Homo sapiens: one gene and its partner. The protein of the gene in region 1 purifies or fractionates together with the protein of each later gene. This does not show direct contact. Each region holds a gene or a part of one and is shown on either strand. Other genes may lie near its edges. The genes, in order: CHN2 and ELMO2.

Region 1 (3,823 bases):
ACAAATCAAGTGGTAAGAAATGTTTTTATTCCTTTAGCTGTGTCAACTTGGATGGTGCTGGGGCCATTCAGCTCATTTCCCTGATGGATTAGAATAAAACGTCTTCGTTTTCTATTAAAATCTGCACAATCAGCTTTTGGTACCGCATATCATGCAGGGTGGTCAGGGTGCTGTCCTCAGGGGGCCTCATCAGAGTGGGCCCAAACACGATCCCCAGATTTTCTGCATTCATGAAATTGTCTTTTTCATTCATAGTAACCCTGCAAAACAAACATATAGAACAGAGACATTATGGAGACTTGAGGATTGATTTTATGTATTGATTATGTATGTAAGTCCCGATAACATCTCTGGTTCAGGAAATTGCAAGAAAAAGATTGGGAATCAGAACAGCAGAAAGGTATTTTTGGAAGGGTAATTTACTGATTTTTCGTTTTAAATTGTTGACATTGCCTTCGCCGGTGGAAATGAATTACTTATGTGAATCTGGCAGGAACACAATTTTTAAAATTAGAAAATTAGTCCTCCTTATTAAGTAAATGTGGAACTATCATTTGAGGAATACTGGTTTGTAGGGGCAGCAGATTCTGAGGCTGGCCCATGGTCCTTTCATAGGCCTTATACAGAAGGCGTTTTTTTTTTCCCTCTTGTGGCTTCCTGCTGGTCTGTATGCTGGAGAGTGGGAAGGGAAGGGCAGGATCCCTCTCTGCTGGGAGGACCGGTGCCAGAGGAGAAAGGTTATGTGTAGAATGGGCTGTCATGAATTGAGGAAGAGTCAGGCCGTTATCGTGGGGTGGGGGAACGGCTGGAATGTCGCCAGACTGGACGGCAGTTGGACATTATTTCTAGTTCCCACAGGATGAGGTCTACAGCAGTTGAAATTAAAAATCATTTCGACATCCAGGTAAGAACTGCAGAGCCTTTAAGAATAAAATTCAAACTGCAAAGCTGGTTTAACACCTTCCTCATGGAATAAAATTACAATCTATCTATCTCCCAGAGTTTTGTTTTCACAACTTTAAGTTTTAGAATGTTCATAATAGATGTAAAAGGGAATGGGTTCTCCAAAAATGAGCAAAATATAATTAAAATGTGTTTAGGAAAATATAATTAAAATGTGTTTAGGTTGTGCATAAAAAGCCATCCCTTTCTATTTCCTTATAACTCATTAGGATTAGCCATTGAGTATTATTTTAAGGTCAACCCAGTTTGTGTCATGTACATGCCACAAAGCCTAAGAAGAAGGTTGGAAAGAGGACGTTTCTCACCATCAAAGTGCCCACAGTTTCCTCTTAAGTCAGGCACTATGCCTGACTAAACAAGATGGCTGGCAAACCCACTATGATAAAGATACAGTATTATTGGCATTTAAGGTTCAGCTGAAAGGTGTCAGCATTTTTCTGGTAGTGGTACTTTGCCTTCCAAACTGTAACAACTGGATATTGATCACAATAAGTATTTTACAGCTAATTGAAAGCCAGATGTGATACCCATAGTTTATTATCTAAAAATTACTTGCACTCCTAAATTCAGTAAATTAATCAGAATGGGAATATTCTGAGCTAAATGTTACCATCACCCTGAATCTGAGCAACAATATTGTATGTCTTCTTGTATGTCTTATAAGGTAGAAAAATAAAAATCTCAATACCTACTGTTTATACAGTCCTCCGTTTGCTTCTTTTCACATACTAAGTAGATCTGTAAACTGGTCAATGTAGACAATTTTCGGTTCATTTTATTTTTATCAAAGAATGGGCTGCTGCCAAGTATCTTTCAAAAACACAGAGGCACACAGATGTGCCCTGATCCCTCCAATGTTATAACACCAATTCATCGACCTCATTACACATGTGCAGTGAAAGAGAGAGACACAAGGTTTAGGGAGAATAGTGTCACCAGAGGTTCTAGTGTCCCATAAACATCCAGACGTCTCCATCTCTGTCTCCCACACACTCACGCAGACAGCTGTGTGTGTGGCAGGTACTCTCTGAGATGGACCTCAGCGATCCATGCCTCCTGGAATTCATACCCTGCATCCCTTCCCCTAAAGTATGGGATGGACTTGATTTGCTTCTAACAGATAAAACACGGTAAAAGCAATAGGATGTCACTTCTGAGATTAGCTTACAAAAAGACTGTCTCTCATATTGGGTGCTCTTGCTTTTTTGTTCTGAGAGAAGCCTGTTGGCTTTTTGTGAGCTGCCTATGGAGAAATGCACATGGCAAGGAACTGAGGGTTGCCTCCAGCAAACTGCTGGTGAGGGAGTGAGGCCTTCAGTCCAACAGCCTTTAAGGAACTGAATCCTGCCAACAACCATGTGAGTGGGCTTGGAGATGGATGCTACCACCATCAAGCCTTCAGGAGTGAATTTTTTTGTTCTTGAGACAGCGTCTCATTCTGTTGCCCAGGATGGAGTACAGTGGTGCCATCTTCGCTCACTGCAGCCTTCGTCTCCCGGGTTCAAGCAATTCTCCTGTCTCAGCCTCCCAAGTAGCTGGGATTACAGACCCATCAAGCCTTCAGATAAGACTGCAGCCTCATTACAGACCTTGAACTGGAGGCAGCCAGCTGAGTCACACCTGGATTCCTGACCCTTAGAAACTATGAGATAATAAATGTTTACAGTTTTAAGCCACTAAGTTTCGGGAGCAATTTGTTACTCAATGAGAGAGAACTCACACATCCAGAAAAATAAGAGACCAGGCTGGGAATGTGCTCTCCCAGGAGGCAGGCAGTCTCAGGAGCCTGGAAAGGGGCAAGCAACAGGGGGATGAACAGGACACAGAGTACAGGGCTTGTGTCAGATGAAGATGCAGACACGGAGGCAGAGTAGTTAAAGGCTGTACATCAGCCTGCCTGGGATCCTGCCTTCACCTCTTCAAATCAGCTGTGTAACCTCCCCAGGCATCAGCAATCTCACAAGTGACACAAGGCCCCTAATGGCACCCCTTTCTTTTTCTTTTTTTTTTTTTTTTGAGATGGAGTCTCGCTCTGTTGCCCAGGCTGGAGTGCAGTGGCACGATCTCGGCTCACTGCCAGCTCTGCCTCCTGGGTTCACACCATTCTCCTGCCTCAGCCTCCCAAGTGGCTGGGACTACAGGCGGCTGCCACCACGCCCGGCTAATTTTTTTGTATTTTTAGTAGAGACAGGGTTTCACCGTGTTAGCCAGGATGGTCTCAATCTCCTGACCTCATGATCCGCCCACCTCGGCCTCCCAAAGTGCTGGGATTACAGGCGTGAGCCATCACAGTGGCGCCCCTTTCATAGGGATGATACACTGAAAGTGCCTGGAGTGGTTCCTGGCACAGTGAAACTCCAGCAGTTATGGCTGGGGAGGAATGCCGTCCACTTTTCCTCATGCATTAACCGCTCTAGGAGCAGAGCAGGCTTTGTGCACGAGACATGAGCTTACTTTTTGAGGTGGATCATTAGGTACCGGAGGGTTTCATAGTGGGCAGGAGGCAGCAGCATCAGCACTTCATGGACGGCTTCCAGCCTCTCATCTGCATTGGAGATTTCTGTGAAGTTCACGCATGATGGGTATTAGTTCAGAGTGTGGCATTCAAGTTTTCAGAGAAGTAACAAGAAGTTTTTGTTTTAGCCAGAAGTGGGGAAGGATTCTAATAAATTCATGCAATCCAAGCACTGTTTCACTTAATCAATTTGTTGGTGTCCTGTGTCATTCAGGAAAGAGTTTGAGGCTGAGCACCACATGCTTATTGAATGTCCTCTGGGTGGCCAGAGGCTGGACACTGTCCTTGCCCTCCATGAATCTGTAAACCAGCAGAATGCTTACAGTCAGGGAGCATATGTGCAGA
Region 2 (3,823 bases), on another chromosome or scaffold:
AAGGACAGACAGAACCACAGATGCTTCTGGTCTTCCCTCTAGAATCTACCAAGAGCTGGGTACATACATGATCCCACTTGAATTTCATCTTACTGAGCCCATGAGATTGTCAGAGAACTAAAATGTCTTACTTTTAACACCACTTGGGCTTTTCTCAGAGAAATCTAGAATGTTAGTATTGGAAGGGCTGTCAGAGATCATTTAAACTGGCCCTTTCATTTTACAGAAAGAGAAACTGAGACCCAAAAAGAGGTTACAAACACTTGTCCAGCCAGCAGCAGGGAGAATACTTAGTCCCAGGCCCCTCGGCTCTTAGGTCAGTGTTTGTTCCACCACCCAGCTGATTCTTAGTTTCCTTATTTGTGAAACAGGGATCTTGTTTTTCCTCAGACATCCTTGTGAGGTAAACAAGGCAGATGTTGTTGCTCCCATGTGACAGGTGAGGAAACTAAGGTTCACAGAGGCAGAGCTATCTGCATAATGTCACAGTTAATGAACAGGGGAAGGAAGATGTTTAGAATCTCCATCAGAGAACCTTTAAACCTAAGATTTAGTGTGAAATCCCATTCATATTGGACTCCTTGGACTCAGGGTAGCCACAGGGTCTCCTCTTCCTTATTCTTGATTCTGTAACCCAGGAGTTGGCAAACTATGGCCATATTAGGCCTGTTGCCTGTTTTTGTAAATAAGATTTTATTGGAAGACAGCCATACCCATTCATTTACCTACTGGCCGAGGCTGCTTTTGGCTACAATGGCAAGGTTGAGTAGCTATCACATAGACCATATGGCCCATAAAGTCAAACATATTTATTCTCTGGCCCTTTAGAGGAAAAAGTTTGAAGGGCCCTGCTCTCATCTAAGACCCAGCTGGTTTCCCCTCATAGGTCTTCCCTGGGTCTTCCTTAGCAAAGCCACCCTCCTGGGCTCCAGACCAGACAGCTAAGAGGAAGAACTCTTGGGAAAATTGCTGGATTTGTGCTCTCTGCATAGCAAAGAGTGCATGGGGTGAGAATTATCTCAGAAGAGCCCAGATGAAAAATGTGAAAAGGCAGCCACAGACCTGTCGTTTGTCCTCAGGAGCCTTCAGAAAAAGTGCATTAATCAGTGCAATGGCGTAGGTCTGAATCTCCTGGTTGGAGCTGTGTCAATGGAGAAAGAAGAGAGAGGGAGATTAGAAGACTGAACAGCAAGATGATGCTTAGAAATGGTTTAAAACAATCACTCACAGATTATAAGCAAATAATGATCTGGAGCTCAGTCTCAAAAGCATTCAAAGTGGGCATGCTCTTGACCCAGCAATTTCACTAATAGGAATTTATCCTAAGACAGTAATCAGAGAGCTATGCAAGATTTACTGACAAGGCGTTTCATTAAAGTACTACTTAAAAAAGAATGGAAAGTAATCCAAATGGTCACATTAGCCAACATTTATACATATGAGAATCTTAAGTAGTTATTAAAAGTCATGTTTTAGGGTAAAGATTCTTAACCTGGGATTCAGGGATGAGCTTAGAGTATTTGTGAACCCCAGGAATGATACAGAAATTATTCTATGTAGTTTGCCAACTAAGTGGTATTTTTTCCAAACTGGTGAGAGTATATACTTGTTACCAGATTTTCAAAGGTGTCTAGGTTGCAAAAAAGACTTAGAACTACCCTTTTAGAAAAATCTTTGACATGGAGAAATGTTCAAGGTGTATTATTCAGTTAAAAAAAATCAAGGTACACATAGTATATATAATGAGATCCCGATTTTGTTAAAAATATGCATAAAAATACTGAAGGGACATTCAATTTAATGTTTAACAGTGGGTATGTCTGGAGGTGAGATAATGGGCAAATAATTTTGCGTTTTTCTGTATTTTTAAAGTCTTTGACTATAAACTTATTTTATTATGAACAAACAAAATAACTACAATCATTCTCTGGAATCTTACAATCCTGGTACTTGACATCTCCACCTGCCATGTCTTGGGTGCATTCTGTGGCTGTCTTTCCAGAGGGTCTGATGGGCTTCCTGGTTAGTCACATGGTACCCAGGGAGTCTAACAGAGGGCACTAAGTATCCCTCAGCCCAAAAAGGAAAGCATATAAGTTCTGGTGACAGCTGTGGGCTGAAAGTATTGGCTCCTATGAAATGCCATGTTCCCCTATCATCCCTAGGGAGGCAACTGGGGCCACTCTGAATTCAGAGACAAAAAAAAAAACCAGAGAAGTAGATGTGAGGTTACAGGAAAATCAGAATTCTCTATCTGGAGTTTATAATGTCCCTCTCACCTTAATCAACCTTGGTGGCTCGCTGGGTATGAAAGCTGAGGCTAGACCAGGCATGGTGACTCACACCTGTAGTCCCAGCTACTCAGGAGGCTGGGGTGGGAGGACTGCTTGAGCCCAACAGTTTGAGACCAGCCTGGACAACACAGCGAGACCCTGTCTCTACAAAAATAAAAAAAAAAAAAAAACTAGCCAGGTGTTGTGGAGTGTGCCTGTGATTCCAGCTACTCGGGAGGCTGAGATGGGGAGGATCGCTTGAGCCTGCAGTGAGTTATGATCATGCCACTGCGCTCCAGCTTGGACGGCAGAGTGAGACCCTGTCTCAAAAAAGAAAAGCAAAGAAAGCTGAGGCTGAAAATTCCTTAAAAGTGACAAGGAGAAATCAGAGTTGCAAAGAAATAATTGTGCTTTCTTTTTACTTGGATTAGTGGGGAAAAACAAGTTGGGAGCATAGCTGAGTGAAGACAGGGCCACTATAAACTCCCAAATCTGGGAGCTATGACTTCCCCTCGAACTGGTGGGGGATTCTGGCAACATTCTGACAATGTCTAAAAAACAGAAGTGAACAACAGTCAGAAGAGAATCAACAGGAGTGCCACCACTGTTTTGCAAAGTCCAGCTTCCTTACATGGTGTAGGTTGGTTGGAAGTGAGGTAAAAACAGCGGAGACGGGAGAAACATTGCTCCAATGGGTTCATTTGTCATATGGTCTCAGTATCTGGTAAAATGTTTTAGGATGTGATAAGAGTCTTAACAAACAAACAAAGGAAAAAAGCCCCTGAATTTACTGAATACCTAACCCAGGTTGGCCTCTATGCTGGACCTTTTTAAAATCTCCTTTGATCCTCACAGTGTGAGAGGTGAAGGTGATTAACCTATTCTAGAGATGAAGAAACTGAGGCCAGAAGAGACTAGGTTACTTGCTGATGGCAGAGACCTAGTATGCAGAAGAGCCTGGATTTGAACTGATATTCCAAACTCACACCTGTGTGATATTTCTTACAAATCACCCACAGTGCATCGTCGGTTCAGTGAGCATTCATTCAACAAGCACTAATTGAGCCTCTACTTAAATCAAAACAGGGGATACAACAATGATTGGTCTCTGTTTCAAGGGGGCTCTATGTTCAAAATGGGCAACAGATAATAAAAATCCAGTATTTTATATAATTATCATAGGTACAGAGACTACTGGGCCCATGTGAGAAAGCATCTAATTTTGCCTGGTACCACCCTGGTATGGGAAGACTGGGAAAATCTTCATTTTAACCTAAGGGGCAGAGAGAGTTACAGAGGATTTTGGGCAGGAGCATGACATGATCAAGTCTGAATGATGGGAGAAATTCTGGCAGGAGTGTGGAAGAGGTGATGAATGAAGAAGCCAACCAACAGCTTGGAATATAAGCAAAGGAGAGTAGGATTGGAAGACTTAAAATAAGAGGAGAAAAGAGGACAGACAAGTGAAGGGAGGGAGGTGTAGGGTTTTTTACTCACACCTGGAGGTGTGAGATGAGCTGTCCCACGGTGATTTCCTCGGCTATCTTCTG

What was found.
Region 2: the proteins of CHN2 (region 1) and ELMO2 purify together in Homo sapiens (affinity purification with mass spectrometry, with the first as the bait; one large-scale study listed by BioGRID). This does not show direct contact.

Annotation. Positions count from the first base shown.
Region 1 is NC_000007.14:29,509,001-29,512,823, reverse strand, and holds part of CHN2 (beta-chimaerin), read right to left. Parts: intron 3,524-3,823; coding exon 3,418-3,523; intron 2,640-3,417; exon of another isoform or gene 261-2,639; coding exon 89-260; 3' UTR 1-88.
Region 2 is NC_000020.11:46,382,354-46,386,176, forward strand, and holds part of ELMO2 (engulfment and cell motility protein 2), read right to left. Parts: coding exon 3,771-3,823; intron 1,142-3,770; coding exon 1,063-1,141; intron 1-1,062. UniProt on the Homo sapiens protein: Involved in cytoskeletal rearrangements required for phagocytosis of apoptotic cells and cell motility. Acts in association with DOCK1 and CRK. Was initially proposed to be required in complex with DOCK1 to activate Rac Rho small GTPases.